2 linked regions of the Homo sapiens genome follow. The protein of the gene in region 2 purifies or fractionates together with the protein of the main gene of each other region. This does not show direct contact. Each region holds a gene or a part of one and is shown on either strand. Other genes may lie near its edges.

What was found.
Region 1: the proteins of ZC3H4 (region 2) and WDR82 purify together in Homo sapiens (affinity purification with western blotting; 4 studies listed by BioGRID and IntAct, with this or other methods). This does not show direct contact.

Annotation. Positions count from the first base shown.
Region 1 is NC_000003.12:52,254,638-52,261,661, reverse strand, and holds part of WDR82 (WD repeat-containing protein 82), read left to right. Parts: intron 1-182; coding exon 183-282; intron 283-1,160; coding exon 1,161-1,277; intron 1,278-1,789; coding exon 1,790-1,945; intron 1,946-2,395; coding exon 2,396-2,465; intron 2,466-2,983; coding exon 2,984-3,126; intron 3,127-4,142; coding exon 4,143-4,172; 3' UTR 4,173-7,024. UniProt on the Homo sapiens protein: Regulatory component of the SET1/COMPASS complex implicated in the tethering of this complex to transcriptional start sites of active genes.
Region 2 is NC_000019.10:47,110,776-47,117,604, forward strand, and holds the start of ZC3H4 (zinc finger CCCH domain-containing protein 4), read right to left. Parts: upstream 3,002-6,829; 5' UTR 2,945-3,001; exon of another isoform or gene 1,939-2,944; intron 1,815-1,938; 5' UTR 1,810-1,814; coding exon 1,649-1,809; intron 1,484-1,648; exon of another isoform or gene 1,387-1,483; coding exon of another isoform or gene 1,373-1,386; intron 182-1,372; exon of another isoform or gene 158-181; coding exon of another isoform or gene 120-157; intron 100-119; exon of another isoform or gene 1-99. UniProt on the Homo sapiens protein: RNA-binding protein that suppresses transcription of long non-coding RNAs (lncRNAs). LncRNAs are defined as transcripts more than 200 nucleotides that are not translated into protein.

The DNA.
Region 1 (7,024 bases), on a different chromosome or scaffold from region 2:
ATACTAGTTGCCTTTGTTTGTTCCAGATATGGTTGTGGTATGTGTGTTTTATTGTGTTTCTTAAAATGGCAATTTTGGGAGAACAGGTATATATATGTATAGATAGGCAGAGTGGTTTAGAATTCACATCCAATTTTTGCTAATATTTCGCATCAACTCCTATTTATCTCGATGTATTGCAGGGTGGTGGCCTTGTCCATGTCACCTGTGGATGACACTTTCATTTCTGGGTCTCTTGATAAGACCATTCGACTCTGGGATCTCCGGTCTCCTAACTGCCAGGTAATGGTACCTCACAGTTATACTTTTTGAGCATTTTCTTTGGTAGGCACTGTAATGAACTCTACCTCTCAAAGAAGGGAGAAAACAGTGGTTCCATTCTGGGATCACAGGGTCTTTTTAAACTTTGGAGAAAATCTGTTTTTTTAGTTGGTAGCTGCTAAGCACATACCCTAATCTAGTGCAGATTGCATTGTACTCTGTGGCTTAATTGTTGTGGGTTTTTTGTTGTTTTGTTTTGTTTTTGTTTTTGTTTTGAGACAGGGTTTCGCTCTTGTTGCCCAGGCTGGAGTGCAATGGTGCAATCTCAGCTCACCGCAACCTCCACCTCCAGGGTTCAAGCGATTCTTCTGCCTCAGCCTCCCAAGTAGCTGGGATTACAGTCATGCACCACCATGTCTGGCTAATTTTGTATTTTTAGTAGAGACGGGGTTTCTCCATGTTGGTCAGGCTAGTCTCCTGACCTCAGGTGATCCTCCTACCTTGGCCTCCCAAAGTTCTGGGATTATAGGCGTGAGCCACTGCGCCCAGCTGGCTTAATGTTTTTAAAAGTGTTCCTAGAGCTTTTAGCTTCAAGGGATTTATTTTTATTTGAATTCTGTGTCTGTAATATTGTGCAGTTAGAGTTGATCAGAAATTGTTGTCTGGAGACCTGTTTTTTAAAAGCTTCATTTTAGTTTTATGTTTTTTTTGTGTGTGTTCTGTAGGTAGGCTGATATTTGTTTGTATGCCTTTCTTAGTTTTAATTGGGAAAAGTAAATTATATAGTGGTAAGGTCCTGGATTCATTTTTTTTTCCCCATTGTACCAGCAGTCTTTGGTTATTCCACGTATGGTTGTGGCATGTGTGTTTTAGTGTATTTCTTATTTCTTTTCTCTTAGGGCCTCATGCATCTGCAGGGGAAGCCAGTTTGTTCTTTTGATCCAGAAGGGTTAATTTTCGCTGCAGGTGTCAACTCTGAAATGGTCAAGCTTTATGACCTTCGTTCTTTTGATAAGGTAAATCTTTGAATCTTTGAGATCTTTGAGCTGTTTTTTGTTTTGTTTTGTTTTTGAGACAGAGTTTTGCTCTTATTGCCCAGGCTGGAGTGCAGTGGTGTAATCTCAGCTCACTGCAACCTCTGCCTCCCAGGTTCAAGTGATTCTCCTGCCTCAGCCTCCCAAGTAGCTGGGATTACACGTGTCCGCCACCACGCCTGGCTAATTTTTTGTATTTAGTAGAGATGGGTTTCACCATGTTGGTCAGGCTGGTCTCAAACTCCTCACCTCTGGTGATCCACCCACCTCGGCCTCCCAAAGTGCTGGGATTACAGGCGTGAGCCACCGCGCCCGGCCCTGTAAGAGCCTTTTCTACAAAAGGAAAAATGTGGTAGATATTAGAGAGTGGCAGAGAAGTAGCTCATTCTCTGCTTTCCTTAGTCAAAAAGTAATCTAAAGGAATAGGATGGGAATTGGCTCTAGCAGAAGAAATTATTAATATGCCTGGGGCTACTGTTTTTTATCTTTTGCAGGGGCCATTTGCTACCTTTAAGATGCAGTATGATCGAACTTGTGAGTGGACAGGACTTAAATTCAGCAATGATGGCAAGCTCATCCTCATTTCCACCAACGGCAGCTTCATTCGTCTGATTGATGCATTCAAAGGAGTGGTGATGCACACATTTGGGGTGAGCTGACAGCCTTCAAGCATGGCTGTTTCCATGCTCATACTTCCTATGCTAAGAATTATGTTAGCTGGTTGGTGGAGACCAACAGTTACTCTTGACTTACTCATGAAGGCATGCACTTGTATTTTCTTCCTGCTCATGAACTTACCTCTCTTGGATTTCGTAGATGTTCATTTCTCACCAAGTGACCCAAGTTTGGTATTTAGATATAAAATAATTTCCTAACAATAAAGTTTTCTTGCCCCCTTGAGTATGCCTTGAATACAGAGTTGAGGGTGGGAGTGGATTGTCAACGATGGCAACCACATTTGGAAGCTTGGTGGTGTAGTACATGACAAGGAAAGGGTTTCATGGAAAGGAAGGTGATGCATGTGCTGAGTCAGTGTTTGTAGGCAGCTGTTTTTATTAATGGCTCTGTAAGAACAAAAGAACTGCTCTGTTTTGTTTTAGGGTTATGCCAACAGCAAAGCTGTCACACTGGAGGCTTCATTTACTCCAGACTCTCAGTTTATTATGATTGGTGAGTTTCCTTTTATCCCCTGTGGGGGTTATTTCTCTGGTACTATGCATTTCTTTGTTTAAATTATTAACTGAGACATTATTATCTATTTGATAGATGTTCTTAGATTTCTGTATAGCACATTATGCCAAGGACATAGTGTCTTTTAACTGCCCTGACTGGACCAAAATTTGAGTTAAACTCCACAAGCACTACCTTATTAGTAATGCTAATGTCCTGGTGTAACCCTACATTCAGTCATCTTAGTGGCTGCCTGTTGGTAGGGTAATGGTATTCGGCCCCTTTTTTAGATGAGAAAACTGAAGTTAGAACGGAAGTGACATGCCTGTGAACAAATAGCTAGGGTCAAGATAAATTTCCAAAGTGTCCTTCCTTCACTGCCTCTCCTCCCTCTCAATTTTGCCTGAGGGATGGGTCCTAAAGCTTGGCGTATCCTCAGATCTCAATCCATGTCTCATTTCCAGTTGTCTTTGTATTGCGCCTTGAGCTGTTACATTTTCCGTGAATATCCTCTTTAGGTTCAGAGGATGGCAAGATCCATGTCTGGAATGGAGAGAGCGGTATAAAAGTAGCTGTGTTGGATGGTAAACACACAGGCCCGATTACCTGTTTGCAATTCAACCCCAAGTTCATGACTTTTGCCAGTGCGTGTTCCAACATGGTATGTGAACAGTAAGAGGTATCTGCTACTCAGGGACCCTTCCCAGTTGGGGTGGTGGGTGCCTCAACAAGCACAGCAAGCTGTGTTCTACATAGGTACATTACAAGCATCCAAGTACATGTTTCTCAACTGGTGGTTTCCCTATTTCATCTCCTATTATTTGATCTCTGGCTGGGCTGGTCTTGCCTTTCATTTTTATTCTTCCTAGAGGTGATCAGGAATCATCTTTGAGTTCCAAGGAGATCATAGGCCAGTTTTTGCTCTGGACCCTAATTTTAGGTCCAAACTACCTGGGCTATGCTTGGCAATTTTTTTGCTCCTTAAAATACTCTGAACCGGCCTTTTGTGGTTTCAGTTTTCCATTCCTGTTGGTTTACGCCAAATTCCCAGAAATTTCTACAGTTGGTCATAACTCACCACTTAGAATTAACTCCAGGCCCTTATCTCTTCCTAGATAATACTAACAGAACAAAGGATCAGTGAGTCTCAGCTCCAGTTTTCCCTTGTGATCTCCTAAACCTGCCTGGGTATTCGGGGATGAGACATTTCATTACTAGCCTACCCGGAGCACATTGCCACCTTGCTTTTTTTTTTTAACCAAGAAAAAAATGTTAGAAAAAATACAGCAAAACCATCCAGTTCCTTACTTTTTACAGCCCAGGAAGGTGGGGGCCTGTTGGAGGTAACCTGGTGGATTAGCAATGAGGACAGGTTACTTATTCACCCACCTCCCAGGCAGCACTCCTTTTTTTCCCTTCCTTTAAAAAAAAGGGGGCGGGGGGTCTGCTTTGGTGGAAGGTGGACAGTGATTATTGGAGAAAAACAGAACCATTTTACTTTCACATAGAGGAAAGAGTGTTTCTGTCTCCTTAGAGCATCGGGGTTGGTTGGTTAGGAGAGAGGGCTACCAGAGCCACTGGGGTTGGGCACATTTTTGCTGTGGGGTGGGATGTGAAGAACCGTTGGCAGTGAGGAGATGCTTGGCTTTTTAAAGTTGATTTATGTTCTCCTTCTAGGCCTTTTGGTTGCCCACCATTGATGACTGACCCTGTTGCTGCTTGGCTATTTCTGTATAGTGAGGGCGGCCAGCAGGAAGAAACTCAGAGGGAACTGAGATAATAGTGGGATTGGATCATTTGACTGGGCTGGAGAACATCCTTTTACATGGCCTTCCCATGGATGTGCTGTACATCTGCTCAAAAGAAAATAATTACTTTGATGAGCGTCTTCAAAAGGACTCTTGGTGCAACAGACTCAATTGGAACTCAGCTTTTCTAACTGTCACTGCACCAAGCTCTGCTGGAGGAGTGACCAGACTCACGATTTGGTATAGTGGGGCTCTCAAGCATCTTCAATTTGAATGTACATGCTGCTGAGGAGCCGGTGAAGTCATCAGTTCCGCACATCCCTTCTACCCTCCAACTGCATGGGAAGCCAAAGTCCTGGTTTTGAAATGCTTGGGCAGCTCAGCCGCTTGCCCTCACCCTGCATGTCTTGTTACTGGGTCTCCCTGTGTACTTGTGGCATTATCCACAACCATCATGTTTCTTAGGTGCCAAACATTTACAGAAACATTTTCATATATCTTGGGGTCAGAGAAAGGGACAGATACAGAAGGACCTTGCTTGCAGGAAGCCATGCAGTTAGTTTCTGCAGTTAGTCGTGTGAGGCTAGGTGGTTGGGCAGGCCTCGGGCTGTAGGTGTTGGGTGGGAAAAAGACCCAAGGGCCTGAAAGGGAGGGAAAGGGGAGGGTAGCGGGAGGGTAGCAGGTGAGTTCCTAGGGCTGGAAGGTTTAGCAGCAGCCTGGTGCAGTGCCCTGTCATCAAGACAAACCCACGGTCCTCCTGGGTGCCTACCAAGCTTGGTTTGTACAAAAGCAAGGTGGGAGTCTATTTTTGTACATGAGATACATCACACTTACCTGTGGGCCAGTATTGTGAAGTGAGTCTGAGTTGTTTACACTGATGCCTTCCCTGCCCACCACAAATTGTGTACATAGTCTTCAGATGATACCACCCCTTTCCCCAGCTCCCAACCAAGAGCTGGTTCTAGGCCTGTGTTATATGTCATATTTAGCGTTTTTATATATGACCTTTGATTTCTGTTGTTTGTATTTTAGCACAGTGTATGCACCTTCATTTAAATACATCTGTGTGCATACAGATACGCATATATGTGTGTGCGTATGCATATATCTCTCATCTGTAGTTTCCAAGAGTTCAGCTGAAGCAGATGGAGTCCTGCAGCCCAGGAGACACCCTGCATCCCTGCTAATAGTGTTTGCCACAAGTATTAGTGAGTCTTCCTTATTAATATTTTCATTTCAGAAGACTGAAGCAAAGCTGATAGTGTTTGCTGTTTCTTTGGCAGCTAAGTGAGGGTCTTGGGATGACTTGCTGTGTTCCTCAAGCTGCACTTTGGGGCCATCTCTGCAGTATTAGCCCCCTTTTTGCTTGGTGGTACTCTGTCTGTGCCTGTGTGTGTGTGTGATAGTCACTCTTGCATGGCTTCCATGTCTGGTTTGTGGCATTTGGGGATAAGGTGCTGAAGCCAGAGCATTTGCAGTTTGTTTGAGGCCTCGTTGCCAATGATAGATCACTCCTGTTGACCTGGTATGTCTGCTTGCTTGCTGCTTTTCCTTGCTTTCTCTTGGAAGAGGAAAGGACTCTGGTCAGGCCCAGGCTGAGTGAGATGAGCTGCAGCTGGCTCATGGCCTTCTTAGAGCAGAGAGAGGAGTATGTCATTTTACTAAGTTCCTAAACAAACATTTATGCAGGCAACACTCCTTGCAGATCCAGAAACTGAGGCACAATAGGGTTATGACTTGCTCAAGAATATGTAGCTGCTAGGGGGTAAATCAAGGCATCACAATTTCTGTTCAGCGGGCAGGAATAGGCTGTGAATTGCTAGCACTTTTTTTTTTTAAGCAATTACTTTTTGACTTGTTCCTCTGAAAGTGCAAGAGGCGTACACCTTTCCCAAATGTAGACTAGAATCTGCAGGATGCCACCCACTGTATAGTTCTGCTTTCCCAGAGAGGAAGAACTTTTAGAAACCAAATGATCTTAATTGTTATTGCCCACCCCTGGCTTTTCCGGGTAGAAAATTCACAGTAGGAATGATTGTTAAGAGAGAGTGCTTGGAACCATGGGTTAACAGGAAAGGCTACCTAACTTCACATATCTGCAACCAGAGCAGCCACCAAGCATTACTTAGCAGCAGGAAAATGATTGTATTTGAGTTCCTGTGTGTCCAAAACTGAGCACCATGTTCTTTGAAAACATGCCACCTCAAGGCTGGGCGCGGTGGCTCACACCTGTAATCCCAGCACTTTGGGAGGCCGAGGCGGGCGGATCACCGGAGGTCGGGAGTTTGAGACCAGCCTGACCAACATGGAGAAACCCCATCTCTACTAAAAATACAAAATTAGCCGGGCGTGGTGGCATGCGCCTATAATCTCAGCTACTTGGGAGGCTGAGGCAGGAGAATTGCTTGAACCCAGGAGGCGGAGGTTGCGGTGAGTTGAGATCGTGCCATTGCACTCCGGCCTGGGCAACAACAGCAAAACTCCGTCTCAAAAAAAAAAAAAAAAAAATGCCACCTCACAGTCTCTATCGTTGGGCCCTGTGGTTGCAAAGCTGCCTCCTGAATTAAGAAGGAAAGGGAAAAGATATAGCTGGAAGCGAGTGGAAGAGATGCTGAGGGCTGGGGCTGCACAGACGTGCTCAGCAGGGCTACAGGTGCTCAAGCCCTATTGGGGATGGGTGGGGAGTGGGGCAGCGGCGTTTGCCACCTTAAGAATTGGGGCCAAAGCCACTGATGTTTATTTGACAGTGACACTGCACTGGGTACTTAAAGAAATTATTTCCCGTTGTAATTATAATTACTGCTTATTAAG
Region 2 (6,829 bases):
AGACCTTTGCTAATCTGTTTATTTCCTTGAACTGGAGTCGGGCTGCGATGGGCTGCGATTCCCAGGACGATACATTTAATTAGAACAAAACAGAAAAAAAAAATGTTGTAAAAGCTCACCAAACTGCTGCACTTGTGTCTCTGAATGTGGGTGGCATTTCTTTTAAAAGGCAAAGTATGGTCTGTGAAGGAGAAAGGGGAAAGGGGAGGTGGGAGTGGGGAGAAGGGGTCGTACGTACAGCCTGGCAAGGGAAGCCCTGGCTGAGACCCCCCGGCTAAGGAAGGGTCCTCAGCGGCTCCCCAGCCAGGGCTGCGACGGAGTAGCCATCTGTCCAGAGCGTTCTCTTCCCCTCTCCACCCCCATTCCCTCCAAGACTCGCTTTCCTGCCGGCTGAAACCCACCGTCCGTGTCCAAACCTACTCTCCAGCCGCCTCTTCTCTCGCCCCACCAGGAAACAGTGGGCGAACCCTGCACCCCAACTCCTTCTGCTCGAGCAGGGGAAGGAAACGGGGCCCCAACCTCGCCCTGAAACGCGCCGGGCTGACCCCATTATCACCCGCCAGCCAGAGAAGGGCGTGGGGGGCCCGCGTTTCGGACTTAATAAAGAGAAGGGGGCGCTTCCTTTAACGCCCTGCCAAAGCACAAGGAAATCTCCTTTTCTCTCCCGGAAGAGACGGTGCCCCATTTTACCCCGACAGAGGGGGGAACCCCAGGAGAAAGCGCGGGACCAACTTCCTCTCCCTACAAGGCAGGGAAACCAAACCTTACCCCCGCAAAACAAGGCTGAGAATCCTCCCTCACGTCACCTACCTACGAAAAGCGAGAGGACCCCTGCCCTTTAGCAAAAACACGGGGAAGAGTCTTCTCTAAAAAAATAGGCTGGGGTTTTCATCAAAAGGGCTGGAGATGCATCTCCCCCCTCCCCAATTCGGCCTTCTAGGGGATAGCTAAAAAACACCCCCCGCCAAAAAATACAAGTGCTATAGAGCACCCACCCAAATGACCCCCAATTACAAGGATGGAGAAGGGACCTGAATGAACCCCCACCTTCTGCCTCCTAAGCTAAAGTACCTATCATCCAAGTAGGACAGGGTGTGCCTCCCCCAGGAGAAAGGATACTGCCGGGGGCTGGGAGACCCCCAACCCCAAACCCCTAAGAGCGGGGCTGTTGTTCGAGATCCCCCCAAAAAGGGTCCGGAGCCCCTCCCCCATCCCCTTCCCCGAAGCCAGGCGACGGGCAAGCGGGCCCGTAGCTGCCAGCTCCGGGCGCAGGGGCAGCCAGGACCCCCGTGGGTCTCCGCAGCACCCCCCACGGCGCCCCCTCCCCAGGACAGGCGGACGGGCGCGGGGGGTCCGAGGGGCGCCTCCTCACCTTCCCCTCAGCATGGCGCCCAAAAAAGACAGAGCGAGAGCGAGGGAGAGCGGGCGAGCGCCGCGAGGGGGGGGAAACGCATGAGGCCGGGAGAGAAAGCAAGCGAGAAAGAGCGAGCGAGCAAGCGATCGAGAGACACCCACCGACCCCGCCCTTCCTCCTCCTCCTCCTCCTCCTCCTCCTCCGCGGCCCGGCCCAACATGGCGGCCGCCCCCCTTCCTCCTCCTCCTCTTCCTCCCCCCGGGGACGCAGCCCCGGCCCAACCGGGGGCCTGACCTGTCGTCAGGGAGCGGGAGGCGGTGGTGGAGGAGGTGCGGGGTGGCCGGGCGGGCGTCGGGGGAACACGGAGGAGGCGAAGGCGTTGATGGCGGCGGCGGCGATGGCGGCGGCGGCGACTCTGATGGCGGCGGCGGGGGGGTCCCGGGCGCGGCCTCCATAGTTCCTTTGGGGGGGAGGGGATGTTAATGCACGAAAAAGGACTGCTTGGGCGTGGCGGGAGGGGCACACTTAAGCTCGGAGGGCTCCTGATGGGAATGGGGTATATATTTTTTCGGTTTCGGAATCACCTCTGCGCTGACCTCCGCGTAGGCCGCACGGCCTAGGCCTCGGAGGGCCGCTCGCCGCCTGCTTTCTCCGCAGCCCACCCTTGCGGTCACTCGCTCACTGGCGCGGGGCCCTCATAGGGGCGAGAGCCCCCCCCCCACGCACCCCCGGGGGGCGGGACACCCGGGAGACACGGACACTGGTGGGTGGTTGGGTGTAATTAGCGCGGGCCGCGCGCGATGGAGCAAGCGAAGGGTAAGGGGAGAAGAGGAGAGCGAGCGAGGGGGGTGGGGGGTTAAAAAGAAAAAAAGGATTTGAGGGAGAGAGGGAACGGGCCGCGGAGACGGGCCGACTGTCTCCCTTCTCTGCCCGCCCTGGGTGCCCCGGCTGCCCGGCCCCCGCCGCAATCAGGAATTGACACAAAATGGCGGCTCGGCCCGAACCAGCCTAGAGGCTGAGGCGGGAGGAAGGGTGAGATGGGAGGGGGAACTGAGAGGCGGAGGCGGAGGCCGTGTCACGTGCAGGAGAGGGGTAGAGACCGCTTGCCCGAAGGCCGGCGGAAAGAGCCGAAGGCAAAGGGCGAGGCCGAGGGGAGGCGGAAATAGCCGAAAGGAGCTGAGCAGGAGCGAGGAGGCGACGGGGGAGAGCCAGAAAGAGCTGAAGGTGGTGATATGGGTGGGGCTAGAGAGAGCATGAGAAACCTAGGGGAGCCATAAATAGCCTAAGCCGATCGGGACCGGGGAAGGAGGAGAAACTGAGACGGTCCGGAAAGAGCCGAAAGCGGTGTCCGGGTGGGTGGCAGGAGGTGGAAACAGCCGAAAGAAAAGCAGCCAGGGTAATGCGATTAAGAGAATGAGCTGAACGGGCGGGGCTGAAGGGGAGAATAAACGACTTTCAGGAATTCGCCGGAGAGCAAGAGGGAAAAACCGAAAATTGCTAGTTTGAAGGAAGGCGGGAAGAGCCAATAGTTTTAGGTGGGAGAATGGGAGGGAAGGAATTCAGGCTACGGAGAGGGAAAAAAAAAATAACCGAAAGCTGGAGGCCAGGTGCCGAGAGTCGGAGGTTTCCGGAGAAGCGATGAAGCCCAGCCAGCCCGGAGGTGACGTCACTCGACAACCCAGTCGATGATGTCATCATTGGATGCGAGAGGGGCGGGGCTTGGTAGTCCCTCAGGGGAGTTTAAGGACCTGGGGTGTAGGACCCATGGAAGGCTCTCAAATAGCAGAGCTAGAAACACTGGCCGGTGTCGTAGACTGTACAAACAAAATCTTTTGACCCTCATAACCGTCCTAACATAAGCTGCTGCTATTCCCATTTGCAGACTGAAGTTCGGTGTTTTAAGTAATCGGTTCACGGTCATAGGATTAGTTCTAAAAAGCACAGCAAGATTTTTTTTTTAAGAGACAGAGTCTTGCTCTGTCGCCCAGACTGCAGTGCTGTGACACGATCATACCTCACTGTAACCTCGAATCCAGGGATCTTCCTTAAATACTTGTTAGCTCTTTCTACAGTGCCAGTCCCTGTGATGGAGCATGGGAACAGTTTCTGTCTTCATGGAACTTAACCGATAATGCCCCAAGGGAGAGAAACAGAGTTAAAGAATAAAGGGGGTGGGTGGAGTGTTAGAGGAGGGTCTTGTAATTGTTCTTTTAGGCTGGTACATGAAAAAGAAGAGATGGTTCCAGGCAGAAGAAATACCTTATTTCAGGCGGGGCGATGTTGCTCACGCCTGTAATCCTAGCACTTTGGGATGCCGGGGCGGGCGGATCGCTTGAGCTCGGGTTGGAGACCAGCCTGACGAACATGGTAAAACCCCTTCTCTACTAAAAATACAAAAATTAGCAGGACATGATGGCTCACACCTGTAGTCCCAGCTGCTCGGGATGTTGAAGAGGGAGAATCGCCCGATCCCGGGAGGTCGCGAGGCTGCAGTGAGCCGAGATTATGCCACTGCACTCCAGCCTGGGCAACAGAGTGAGACTCTTGTCTCAAAAAAAAAAGAAAAGAAATACCTTATTTCAGGCCCTGACAAAGCAAAGACCACTTAGATTCCAGGAAGAGAGAAAAACCGTGTCAACAGTGATAAATCTGGAGACAGAGGCACCATGTGACTTCCTGGTATATTGATCCTACTTTTTTTTTTTTTTTTTTGAGGCAGAGTCTCGCTCTGTCGCCCAGGCTGGAGTGCAGTGGCGCGGATCTCGGCTCACTGCAAGCTCCGCCTCCCGGGTTCACGCCATTCTCCTGCCTCAGCCTCCCAAGTAGCTGGGACTACAGGCGCCCGCCACCACGCCCAGCTGATTTTTTGTATTTTTAGTAGAGACGGCGTTTCACCGCGTTAGCCAGGATGGTCTTGATCTCCTGACCTCGTGATCCGCCCGCCTCGGCCTCTCAAAGTGCTGGGATTACGGGCGTCAGCCACCGCGCCCAGCGGATCCTACTGTTTTTTAAATGTTCCAGCTGGCAGCGGGGCGTGGTGGCACACACCCATAATCCCAACACTTTGGGAGGCCGAGGCTGGCGGATCACTTGAGGTCAGGAGTTTGAGATCAGCCTGGCCAACGTGACGAAACCCCGTCTCTACTAAAAAGACAAAAAATTAGCCAGGCATGGTGTGGCGCGCCTGTAATCCCAGCTACTTGGGAGACTGAGGCAGAAGAATCGCTTGAACCTAGGGGGTGGAGGTTGCAGTGAGCCAAGATGGCACCACTGCACTCCAGCCTGGATGACAGAGCAAGACTCCGTCTCAAAAAAAAAAAAAAAAAAAAAAAAAAATTAGCCAAGCGTGGTGGCCGGCACCTGTAATCACCAGTTACTCGGGAAGCTGAGGGGAGAATCGCTTGAATCCGGGAGGCAGAGGTTGCAGTGAGCTAAGATCATGCACTCCAGCCTGAGTGACAGAAAGACTTTAATTAAATTAAATGTTGCAGCCGGCACAGTGGCTCATGCCTATAATTCTAGCACAGGAGGATTGCTTGAGCCCAGAGGTTCAAGACCAGCCTGGGCAACATCGTGAGACCCCAGTTTCTTCAAAAAGTCAAAACATGGCCGGGCGCAGTGGCTCACGCCTGTAATCCCAGCACTTTGGGAGGCCGAGGCGGGCAGATCACGAGGACAGGAGATCGAGACCATCCTGGCTAACCCAGTGAAACCCCGTCTCTACTAAAAATACAAAAAATGAGCCGGGCATAGTGGCGGGCGCCTGTAGTCCCAGCTACTCGGGAGGCTGAGGCAGGAGAATGGTTTGAACCCGGGAGGTGGAGCTTGCAGATAGCCCCACTGCACTCCAGCCTGGGCAACAGAGCGAGACTCCGTCTCAAAAAAAAAAAAAAAGAAGTCATAACATTAGCCCGGCTTCATGCTATGCACCTGTGGCCCCAGCTACTTGGGAGGCTGAGGCAGGAGAATCACTGGAGCCCAGGAGGTTGAAGGAGGTTGAAGCTACAGTGAGCTATAATCATGCCACTGTACTCCAGTGGAGACTTTGTCTCAAAAAAAATAAATAAATAAAAATAAAAATAAGGCCAGGCACAGTGGCTCACGCCTGTGATCCCAGCACTTTGAGAACTCTAGGCAGGTGGATCACGAGGTCAGGAGCAGCCTGGCCAACGTGGTGAAACCCTGTCTCTACTAAAAATACAAAAAAAATTAGCCGGGTGTGGTGGCAGTTGCTTGTAGTCTCAGCTACTCAGGAGGCTGAGGCAGGAGAATCGCTTGAACCCAGGAGACAGAGGTTGCAGGGAGCCGAGCTCACACCACTACACTAGAGCCTGGGTGACACAGCGAGAAGAAAATTCCTGACAAAATGCTTAAAATAAATCATCAGTGGATGAAACTTGTTTTAAGAAGCTGGTGCTCCCCCCACCATCCCACCTGGTACCCCAGTTGCCAGCCAAGAATTGTGTTACCTTTACCCTGACTATCGTCTTTCTGGATCCAATCTCAGATCTAATGGTTAGATAATTATTCTCTTCTCCTATAAAATGTCCCTATTAGAGTGAATCTTAATTGGCCAACAAGAGACCTTTTTTCCTTGCATGTAAGATTGTAATAAAATGTTCACTCATGCTCATAGCTATGTTGTCCAAAAAGTTTTCTTTAACACACCAAGAACTAATACTTCAGGTTTGTAGGAATGGAAAGGAAGGACACCAAAGTAGCTCACTATGTTCGATTGTGGATGGTGCCATTCCTTCCTTTACACCTTGATTTTTGGACCTCATGTATTCTGGGTTATGGACAAAATCACTGATTGAGAACATAGACCACATCTAAGAGGACAGCCATTGTCTTTTCAAGGTATGGTCCTGAAGGGGCCCCATCTCTGTAGTTTCAATGGGGCCATTCTACAATTCTAGATGGCCATCTGCTTTTAAGTAATGGGGAAAACAAAAATCCCACCAAGCAGGAATTCCCTGTACTTCTTCAGTGTCATGATGGAACATTGTGGAACATTGTCTGCCAAGCCCTTCTGACACTTCATCTGACTTTTTTATTTTTATTTATTTATTTATTTATTTTTATTTTTTTGAGACAGAGCCTCGTACTGTCACACGGGCTGGAGAGCAGTGGCACAATCTCGGCTCACTGCAACCTCTGCCTCCAGGGTTCAAGTGATTCTCCTGCCTCAGCCTCCCAAGTAGCTGGGATTACAGGCGCCCACCACCATGCCCAACTAATTTTTTGTGTTTTTAGTAGAGACGGGGTTTCACCATGTTGGCCCTGCAGTCTCACACTCGTGACCTTGTGATTCGCTCGCCTCGGCCTCCCAAAGTGCTGGGATTACAGGTGTGAGCCACCGTGCCCTGCCTGTTTAGTTAGTTTTTGAGACAGAGTCTCGCTGTGTCTCCCAGGCTGGAGTGCAGTGTCGTAATCTTGGCTCACTGCAACCTCTGCCTCCCAGATTCAAGCAAT